Linked DNA regions of Homo sapiens. The protein of the gene in region 1 purifies or fractionates together with the protein of each later gene. This does not show direct contact. Each region holds a gene or a part of one and is shown in the gene's direction. Other genes may lie near its edges.

Evidence for each region.
Region 2: the proteins of LUM (region 1) and ACAN purify together in Homo sapiens (co-purification; one study listed by BioGRID). This does not show direct contact.
Region 3: the proteins of LUM (region 1) and RMDN1 purify together in Homo sapiens (co-immunoprecipitation; one large-scale study listed by IntAct). This does not show direct contact.

What each region holds. Positions count from the first base shown.
Region 1 is NC_000012.12:91,105,155-91,108,494, reverse strand, and holds part of LUM (lumican precursor), read left to right. Parts: coding exon 1-377; intron 378-3,340.
Region 2 is NC_000015.10:88,855,330-88,858,986, forward strand, and holds part of ACAN (aggrecan core protein isoform 3 precursor), read left to right. Parts: coding exon 1-3,657. UniProt on the Homo sapiens protein: This proteoglycan is a major component of extracellular matrix of cartilagenous tissues. A major function of this protein is to resist compression in cartilage. It binds avidly to hyaluronic acid via an N-terminal globular region.
Region 3 is NC_000008.11:86,474,660-86,477,735, reverse strand, and holds part of RMDN1 (regulator of microtubule dynamics protein 1), read left to right. Parts: intron 1-411; coding exon 412-442; intron 443-2,139; coding exon of another isoform or gene 2,140-2,201; exon of another isoform or gene 2,202-2,342; intron 2,343-2,782; coding exon 2,783-2,916; intron 2,917-3,076.

The sequences.
Region 1 (3,340 bases):
CTTCATCCATCTCCAGCACAATCGGCTGAAAGAGGATGCTGTTTCAGCTGCTTTTAAAGGTCTTAAATCACTCGAATACCTTGACTTGAGCTTCAATCAGATAGCCAGACTGCCTTCTGGTCTCCCTGTCTCTCTTCTAACTCTCTACTTAGACAACAATAAGATCAGCAACATCCCTGATGAGTATTTCAAGCGTTTTAATGCATTGCAGTATCTGCGTTTATCTCACAACGAACTGGCTGATAGTGGAATACCTGGAAATTCTTTCAATGTGTCATCCCTGGTTGAGCTGGATCTGTCCTATAACAAGCTTAAAAACATACCAACTGTCAATGAAAACCTTGAAAACTATTACCTGGAGGTCAATCAACTTGAGAGTAAGTAAAAAGCTGTTCCTGTGTTTGATGTGTGCTCAAGTGTTTAAATACCTGGGCTGCACAACACAGATATTGCATCTGGCTCCATTAAAAAAACAAAATGTCGCCCGGGCGCTGTGGCTCATTCCTGTAAATCCAGCATTTTGGGAGGCCGAAGTGGGCGGATCACCAGGTCAGGAGTTGAGACCAGCCTGGCCAACATGATGAAACCCCATCTCTACTAAAAATACAAAAATTAGCCAGGCGTGGTGTCGCACTTCTGTAATCCCAGCTACTCAGGAGGCTGAGCCAGGAGAATTGCTTGAACCTGGGAGATAGAGGTTGCAGTGAGCCGAGATCGTGCCACTGTACTCAAGCCTGGGCAAGACAGCCAGATTCTGTCTTGGAAAAAAAAAAAATGTCCACAAAATATCCCTCTACTTCAAACAAAGAATAATTCTAGCTCAATCATATATCCAATATCCAGCCTTTCTTTGGTGTATCCAGATAAGGAACAATTAAGGTCACAGAATTTAATATGTAAGTCTTCAAACTAAAAATTCCGGGCCAACTCATCCTGCTGTGTTACCTCCTCATATATATCTCTTATTATTTTCTCCTTTATGGCTTAGATTTGTGTCCTACATTTATTTTTTGACAAGATCTAGATGAGGGAGGAAGAAATGAGTTCAAAAGTGGCACAGTTGGCAAACTCCATAGCCACAAAGAAGCCCATATTGTCCCTCCCTCCCTCCCTCTCTCTCTCTTTTTCTTTCTTCCTTCCTTTCTTTCCCTTTCTTTCTTTCTTTCTTTCTTTCTTTCTTTCTTTCTTTCTTTCTTTCTTTCTTTCTCTTTCTTTCTTTCTTTCTTTCTTTCTTTCTTTCTTTCTTTCTTTCTTTCCTTTCTTTCTTTCTTCTTTCTCTCTTTCTTTCTTTCTTTTTCTTTCCTTCTTTCTTTCTTTCGTTTTCTTTCTTTCTTTCTTTCTTTTTTTTTTTGACAGGGTCTCACTCTGTCGCCCAGACTGGAGTGAGGTGGTGCAATCTCGGCTCATTGCAACCTCCACCCCCCAGGCTCAGGCGATTCTCCCACCTCAGGCCACCACCACCACCAGGCTAATTTTTATGTTTTTAGTAGAGATGGGGTTTCACCATGTTAACCAGGCTGTTCTTAAAATCCTGACCTCAACTGATCCATCTGCCTTGGCCTCCCAAAGTACTGGGATTACAGGCGTGAGCCACTGTGCCTGGCCCCATATAGTCTCATGGTCTTCCCTGACATCAACTACTTGGGACTCACCATGTTACTCTGCTGTCATGATCATCATCTGCCTCTGTTATCTCTGTTATGGTGTGTGGCCATCACAGTGCTCTGGAGGACTGTGAAGAAGATTAAAGAGAAAAAGAAATATGATGGGAGATTCTAACATCTTTTTTTTTTTTTTTTTTTTTAGAAGAAAAATAGTGTTACAGAGCTTTTTTTTTCTTGGGTACAATCCTGCCCCTCATTTGATATTTCCACACTTTCTCTTTCTCCTCTCTTTATTTTTCATTTATCTTCTGGATGAAGTTTGATCTGATGCATTTGGACTGCTTATGCACTTATGTGGTCTTCAGGGACATTCTTCAACTTAAGCAGTATAGATTCCAATGGGAAATTGAAATCCACCATTTCCTACCAGGATAACTCTGCCATTAATCTTTGGCAGAGCTTGGTAGAAGAGAAAAACCATGATTCACAGATAAGGCTTTCTAAATGAAAAAATCAAGCAGGAAACATTGATTCACATATAAAGTAATAATGTCTGCAAAATAATCTATTGAATTTGAACATCTCTACATGATGAAAATTGGTTTTCTGGCCATGCTGAATAAAGGTATTGCTGTCAGAAAATATTACAATATATTTTATGCATATGATGTTTGTTAATTCTGCCAGTTTCATATAACCTCTAGTAGGGTTAAACGTTTTCATAAAGAAGACCATACTCGCCAACTCTGAAGCTCCACATGTTCTTTGTTGTTTCTGAAAAGCAGCCAAGGTAAGGGTTGGTGCTGTTTGACTGTCACACAATACACAGTCAGGCTAACACAGCTAAACCCCTCTTGTTGTTTCCAGTGGAAAATTCACTATGTGGCCATATGTGATTCCTCATTTTAAACATATGTGGTTAGGAGGAAGGATACTCTCTGACAGACCAAAATGCTAAAGGAATTTACGATGCTTAAGGGATGACGGAGTACATTAGATTTGGTGGGTAGAGATTATTCGTAAGAGCAGGGCTACTTCTTTCTCTGAAACAAAGAAGGATACAGAAGTAGGCACATTTGAAGGTATACATTGCATGAGTAAAGGATGGAAGAGAGGTCTATGGGAGAAAGGCCAACGGCCTGTCAGTGCCAAGCTGAGATAGAAACCACAGTGCCCAGTACATAGTGGTCATTTGAAAAGGTAACATAATAGTTTCCTTTCTTTCTTCCTTATCTTTGTACATTTAGTCAGGTATTCTCCTTGTCTTTTTATGTATCACCTCAGTTTAGGTTATTTTGCCAGATAATAATCAACTATATCAACATTTCACATTCACTTAATACAGAAAGTTCCCCTCAATGTTTTTTTCTAATATTAGGGAATATATAGCCAAAACAAACTGTTTTCTATTTCAAACTTGCAACTCTAAGCATTAGCCCAATCAGAGATCTTCCTAGTGTAGAGTAATTTAGAAAGACAGCAAAATCAAAAGGATATTAGTCATTATTTAGGACATACTATGTACTAGTATTGTGTGAAGTGCTCTACACAACTTAATTTAATCTTCATGCAACACGGTAAGATAGATGTGTTATTTCTAACAAGATCAGATAAGTGTTCCAGTGTTGCCCACCTGGGTAAGTGGCAGAGGTAGAATTCCAAGATGGGACTATGCCCATCTTCTTTCCATTTTTCCTCACTTTCTCAAATGTTGGTACCATAGAAAAATCCCTGGA
Region 2 (3,657 bases), on another chromosome or scaffold:
AAGTGGACTACCCTCAGGGGATGAAGAGAGAATTGAGTGGCCCAGCACTCCTACGGTTGGTGAACTGCCCTCTGGAGCTGAGATCCTAGAGGGCTCTGCCTCTGGAGTTGGGGATCTCAGTGGACTTCCTTCTGGAGAAGTTCTAGAGACCTCTGCCTCTGGAGTAGGAGACCTCAGTGGGCTTCCTTCTGGAGAAGTTCTAGAGACCACTGCCCCTGGAGTAGAGGACATCAGCGGGCTTCCTTCTGGAGAAGTTCTAGAGACCACTGCCCCTGGAGTAGAGGACATCAGCGGGCTTCCTTCTGGAGAAGTTCTAGAGACCACTGCCCCTGGAGTAGAGGACATCAGCGGGCTTCCTTCTGGAGAAGTTCTAGAGACCACTGCCCCTGGAGTAGAGGACATCAGCGGGCTTCCTTCTGGAGAAGTTCTAGAGACCACTGCCCCTGGAGTAGAGGACATCAGCGGGCTTCCTTCTGGAGAAGTTCTAGAGACCACTGCCCCTGGAGTAGAGGACATCAGCGGGCTTCCTTCTGGAGAAGTTCTAGAGACCGCTGCCCCTGGAGTAGAGGACATCAGCGGGCTTCCTTCTGGAGAAGTTCTAGAGACCGCTGCCCCTGGAGTAGAGGACATCAGCGGGCTTCCTTCTGGAGAAGTTCTAGAGACCGCTGCCCCTGGAGTAGAGGACATCAGCGGGCTTCCTTCTGGAGAAGTTCTAGAGACCGCTGCCCCTGGAGTAGAGGACATCAGCGGGCTTCCTTCTGGAGAAGTTCTAGAGACCGCTGCCCCTGGAGTAGAGGACATCAGCGGGCTTCCTTCTGGAGAAGTTCTAGAGACCGCTGCCCCTGGAGTAGAGGACATCAGCGGGCTTCCTTCTGGAGAAGTTCTAGAGACCGCTGCCCCTGGAGTAGAGGACATCAGCGGGCTTCCTTCTGGAGAAGTTCTAGAGACTGCTGCCCCTGGAGTAGAGGACATCAGCGGGCTTCCTTCTGGAGAAGTTCTAGAGACTGCTGCCCCTGGAGTAGAGGACATCAGCGGGCTTCCTTCTGGAGAAGTTCTAGAGACTGCTGCCCCTGGAGTAGAGGACATCAGCGGGCTTCCTTCTGGAGAAGTTCTAGAGACTGCTGCCCCTGGAGTAGAGGACATCAGCGGGCTTCCTTCTGGAGAAGTTCTAGAGACTGCTGCCCCTGGAGTAGAGGACATCAGCGGGCTTCCTTCTGGAGAAGTTCTAGAGACTGCTGCCCCTGGAGTAGAGGACATCAGCGGGCTTCCTTCTGGAGAAGTTCTAGAGACTGCTGCCCCTGGAGTAGAGGACATCAGCGGGCTTCCTTCTGGAGAAGTTCTAGAGACTGCTGCCCCTGGAGTAGAGGACATCAGCGGGCTTCCTTCTGGAGAAGTTCTAGAGACTGCTGCCCCTGGAGTAGAGGACATCAGCGGGCTTCCTTCTGGAGAAGTTCTAGAGACTACTGCCCCTGGAGTAGAGGAGATCAGCGGGCTTCCTTCTGGAGAAGTTCTAGAGACTACTGCCCCTGGAGTAGATGAGATCAGTGGGCTTCCTTCTGGAGAAGTTCTAGAGACTACTGCCCCTGGAGTAGAGGAGATCAGCGGGCTTCCTTCTGGAGAAGTTCTAGAGACTTCTACCTCTGCGGTAGGGGACCTCAGTGGACTTCCTTCTGGAGGAGAAGTTCTAGAGATTTCTGTCTCTGGAGTAGAGGACATCAGTGGGCTTCCTTCTGGAGAGGTTGTAGAGACTTCTGCCTCTGGAATAGAGGATGTCAGTGAACTTCCTTCAGGAGAAGGTCTAGAGACCTCTGCTTCTGGAGTAGAGGACCTCAGCAGGCTCCCTTCTGGAGAAGAAGTTCTAGAGATTTCTGCCTCTGGATTTGGGGACCTCAGTGGACTTCCTTCTGGAGGAGAAGGTCTAGAGACCTCTGCTTCTGAAGTAGGGACTGACCTCAGTGGGCTTCCTTCTGGAAGGGAGGGTCTAGAGACTTCAGCTTCTGGAGCTGAGGACCTCAGTGGGTTGCCTTCTGGAAAAGAAGACTTGGTGGGGTCAGCTTCTGGAGACTTGGACTTGGGCAAACTGCCTTCTGGAACTCTAGGAAGTGGGCAAGCTCCAGAAACAAGTGGTCTTCCCTCTGGATTTAGTGGTGAGTATTCTGGGGTGGACCTTGGAAGTGGCCCACCCTCTGGCCTGCCTGACTTTAGTGGACTTCCATCTGGATTCCCAACTGTTTCCCTAGTGGATTCTACATTGGTGGAAGTGGTCACAGCCTCCACTGCAAGTGAACTGGAAGGGAGGGGAACCATTGGCATCAGTGGTGCAGGAGAAATATCTGGACTGCCCTCCAGTGAGCTGGACATTAGTGGGAGAGCTAGTGGACTCCCTTCAGGAACTGAACTCAGTGGCCAAGCATCTGGGTCTCCTGATGTCAGTGGGGAAATACCTGGACTCTTTGGTGTCAGTGGACAGCCATCAGGGTTTCCTGACACTAGTGGGGAAACATCTGGAGTGACTGAGCTTAGCGGGCTGTCCTCTGGACAACCAGGTATTAGTGGAGAAGCATCTGGAGTTCTTTATGGCACTAGTCAACCCTTTGGCATAACTGATCTGAGTGGAGAAACATCTGGGGTCCCTGATCTCAGTGGGCAGCCTTCAGGGTTACCAGGGTTCAGTGGGGCAACATCAGGAGTCCCTGACCTGGTTTCTGGTACCACGAGTGGCAGCGGTGAATCTTCTGGGATTACATTTGTGGACACCAGTTTGGTTGAAGTGGCCCCTACTACATTTAAAGAAGAAGAAGGCTTAGGGTCTGTGGAACTCAGTGGCCTCCCTTCCGGAGAGGCAGATCTGTCAGGCAAATCTGGGATGGTGGATGTCAGTGGACAGTTTTCTGGAACAGTCGATTCCAGTGGGTTTACATCCCAGACTCCGGAATTCAGTGGCCTACCAAGTGGCATAGCTGAGGTCAGTGGAGAATCCTCCAGAGCTGAGATTGGGAGCAGCCTGCCCTCGGGAGCATATTATGGCAGTGGAACTCCATCTAGTTTCCCCACTGTCTCTCTTGTAGACAGAACTTTGGTGGAATCTGTAACCCAGGCTCCAACAGCCCAAGAGGCAGGAGAAGGGCCTTCTGGCATTTTAGAACTCAGTGGTGCTCATTCTGGAGCACCAGACATGTCTGGGGAGCATTCTGGATTTCTGGACCTAAGTGGGCTGCAGTCCGGGCTGATAGAGCCCAGCGGAGAGCCACCAGGTACTCCATATTTTAGTGGGGATTTTGCCAGCACCACCAATGTAAGTGGAGAATCCTCTGTAGCCATGGGCACCAGTGGAGAGGCCTCAGGACTTCCAGAAGTTACTTTAATCACTTCTGAGTTCGTGGAGGGTGTTACTGAACCAACTATTTCTCAGGAACTAGGCCAAAGGCCCCCTGTGACACACACACCCCAGCTTTTTGAGTCCAGTGGAAAAGTCTCCACAGCTGGGGACATTAGTGGAGCTACCCCAGTGCTCCCTGGGTCTGGAGTAGAAGTATCATCAGTCCCAGAATCTAGCAGTGAGACGTCCGCCTATCCTGAAGCTGGGTTCGGGGCATCTGCCGCCCCTGAGGCCAGCAGAGAAGATTCTGGGTCCCCTGATCTGAGTGAAACCACCTC
Region 3 (3,076 bases), on another chromosome or scaffold:
TTCAATAATAATGGACTCTTAAAAATTCACTAGTACAACGAATAAATTCAGCTTTTGATTATATTTTGTTTTTACTAAAAATCACTAGTTATGATTTAAGAGAACTGTCAAAATAGCTGAGTTACACGTGATAATGTTCTTTCCTTTCTGCACATGATGTTAGTTTGGTACAAGTTCTAAACAGCAACCAAGTTATTACCAGAAGTAGTCCATATATTGTAATCTTGATGATTGAAGTGTTACGTTCACTTTGGGTGTTAACTCTCACTGTTGAAGAAGTGACCATTATTTTAAGATGATTTACTTCCTGACTTAAATATAATATAGCAGTAGATCTTTGAGACAATGCTTTTTTAATATTGTCTTCTTTAATCTTTTTTATTATGTTTGGGCTCTTTGTGTTTTTGACAGGCCTTAGGCTACTTTCACAGGGCAGAACAAGGTAAGGTATTTTTGATTACACATATTAATATAGTTAAAATTGTATGAATGCTGAATATATACTATAATAGCAATGTCTAAAGCAGTTGTTTATTCTGTTATACTTATTTTTGTGCTAGATACTGTAAAACAATTTTTAAAGTCTTTATTCAGTAAAGATCACCTGAATGAGAAATAGGCTGCTATTGAACTTAGAGCTGCAGTTCTGGAATGTCTATCATTTGATGTAATTCTGCTTCCTTTGTGAGAGCAGTCTCTGACATGGTAATTGTCTTATTCAAGACTGCACATATTGGCCAGATGTGGTGGCTAACACTTGTAATCCCAGCACTTTGGAAGGCCAAGGCAGAAGGATCACTTGAACCCAGGAGTTTGAGACCAGCCTGGGCAACATAGCGAGACCTCATCTCTACCAAAAAATAAAAATAAAAATTAGCCAGGTGTGGTAGCACACACCTGTAGTCCCAGCTACTCAGGAGGCTGAGGCAGGAAGGTCACTTGAGCCCAGGAGTTCCAGGCTACAATGAGCTGTGATTGCACCACTGCACTACAGCCTGGGCCACAGAGTGAGACTTGTCTGAAAAAAACAAAAAAAGATTATGCATCTCATTAGAGGCATTTAAATGGGAATTCTGCTATTCAGCCAGGCTAGTTCTATTGCAGATATTGTGAAAAAGAGTTTCGGGTTATGTTTGTTTTGAAAAAATGACTAGTCCTATGAAACTGCCACCAGCCCATCCTAAATTTATCCTTTTTAATATTCATACACCAAGTGGGGGAGATAAGAGACATAAGCATATGATACCAAATAGACCATAAAAACCATTGAAATATATTCTATAAAACTTAATCAGGAGAAGACATACCATGTTTATTAAATTTGAGATCCCACACATAATGGACTTGTTCATTTCATGATAACAGTTATCTTCTACAGAATTTTATCTGAATGTTTTATCTCTGTAATTCATCAATTCTGATTTATTCATTATTACCTTCACTGATACCCTCTCTTGATCATACTGTTTCACATATCATGAATATGAATCTAGGGATGACTTTTTTTAACAGATTTAAAAGTTAATTACAAAGTAAAAATATAGGACCTTAGAGACTTAAGGGTTGGGGGTGTTGAGAAAAACATGGTCCTACCCTCATGGAGCTAAAATAATCCCTGGTAACTTCAGTCATTCTTGAGTGACCTTACCTTATTTCTTTCTGGCCTATATTCAGTTCAGAGGCTCCTCTGATGCCCTTAGTATCTTTTATTTTTCCAGTGATACTTATCACTCAATACTATGAACATTTACATGTGTAAGACTGTACATTCTGAGAAGATGTGGACTTTGTCTTTTCTGGCTCACAATTGCACACTCATTACTTGGCACAATGCTTGGCAAATCTGTTGAATGACTGAGTAAATAGATGAATGATCGGATGATTGAATATACGAATATATTTAACCCCAGGACAACTTAAGTATATCAACATGGCATCACACAAATCTGCTCAAATAAAAGAAGTAAAACAATTTTGGTTAAGGAGCAAATGGAGTTAATCATTAATTGTATACAGGAAAAAGTATGCTTTGAATACAGAGGATCTCAGATTGTTAGGGGGACACTTTGTGAAGAATTAAGTTGGTGAGATAATTCCATGTTTTCATTCATAGGCTTTCTGTTTATGCTTTTCTTTCAGCCAAGAATGTTCTCCACTTTTTTTTTTGGTTTCTTGTAGCAGTTCAAAGTTTGTATATCTAGTAAAGCATTCCTTTCATTTTTATATTACATTTAGTTGTGTTCATGTTTCTCTCTTCATTATAAAGTTGAAAAAAACAGAGGTTTTGTTTCATCCTCTATGTTTAAGTATAGCTGACATCCAGTAAATGTTGATCAAATATATATATGTCATCATCATTTCATTCACTTATTCAGCCGATGTACACTGAATGTATGTTATGTTTCACACACTGTTGTAGGCACGTGGGGTACCATAGGGAACTAAAGAGATTAAAAAGAGTATTGCTGTCCTCAAATAGCATACATTCTATCGGGAGCTTCAGCTTCTCATCTATAAAATGGAGATACCTACTTACAAAGTTGTGAAAATGAGAAATGTGTATAATGCAGTGCCTAGCACATTTGTAGATGTTTATTCATTGGTAATTATTATTTTACAAATATTTGTTTGAGATATAAACAGTTGAACAAAAGAGAATTCCCATTAGTCTAATCACTTATTGACCACACAAATTTATTGAAATTTAGACCTCAGAAACAAACCTTTAAAAATAAAAGCAACACTGTTTCCTCTGAGATCATTTTTTCTTTCTTATGTGCAGTGGATCCAAACTTCTACAGCAAAAACTTACTTCTTTTAGGAAAGACATACTTGAAACTACACAACAAAAAGCTTGCTGCTTTCTGGCTAATGAAAGCCAAGGACTATCCAGCACACACAGAGGAGGATAAACAGGTAAAACATCTCCCATAAAGTAAGGCAGAAAGGTTTTGAGGCACTATTAAATGGTGAATTAAGAACTTCTTTAAAAGCATAATTTTCTAAATGCATAATATTGTTGAAAACAAGTGTGTTCATTTCAAGTGTAAATTGATTGACATTTATATTTCTATAT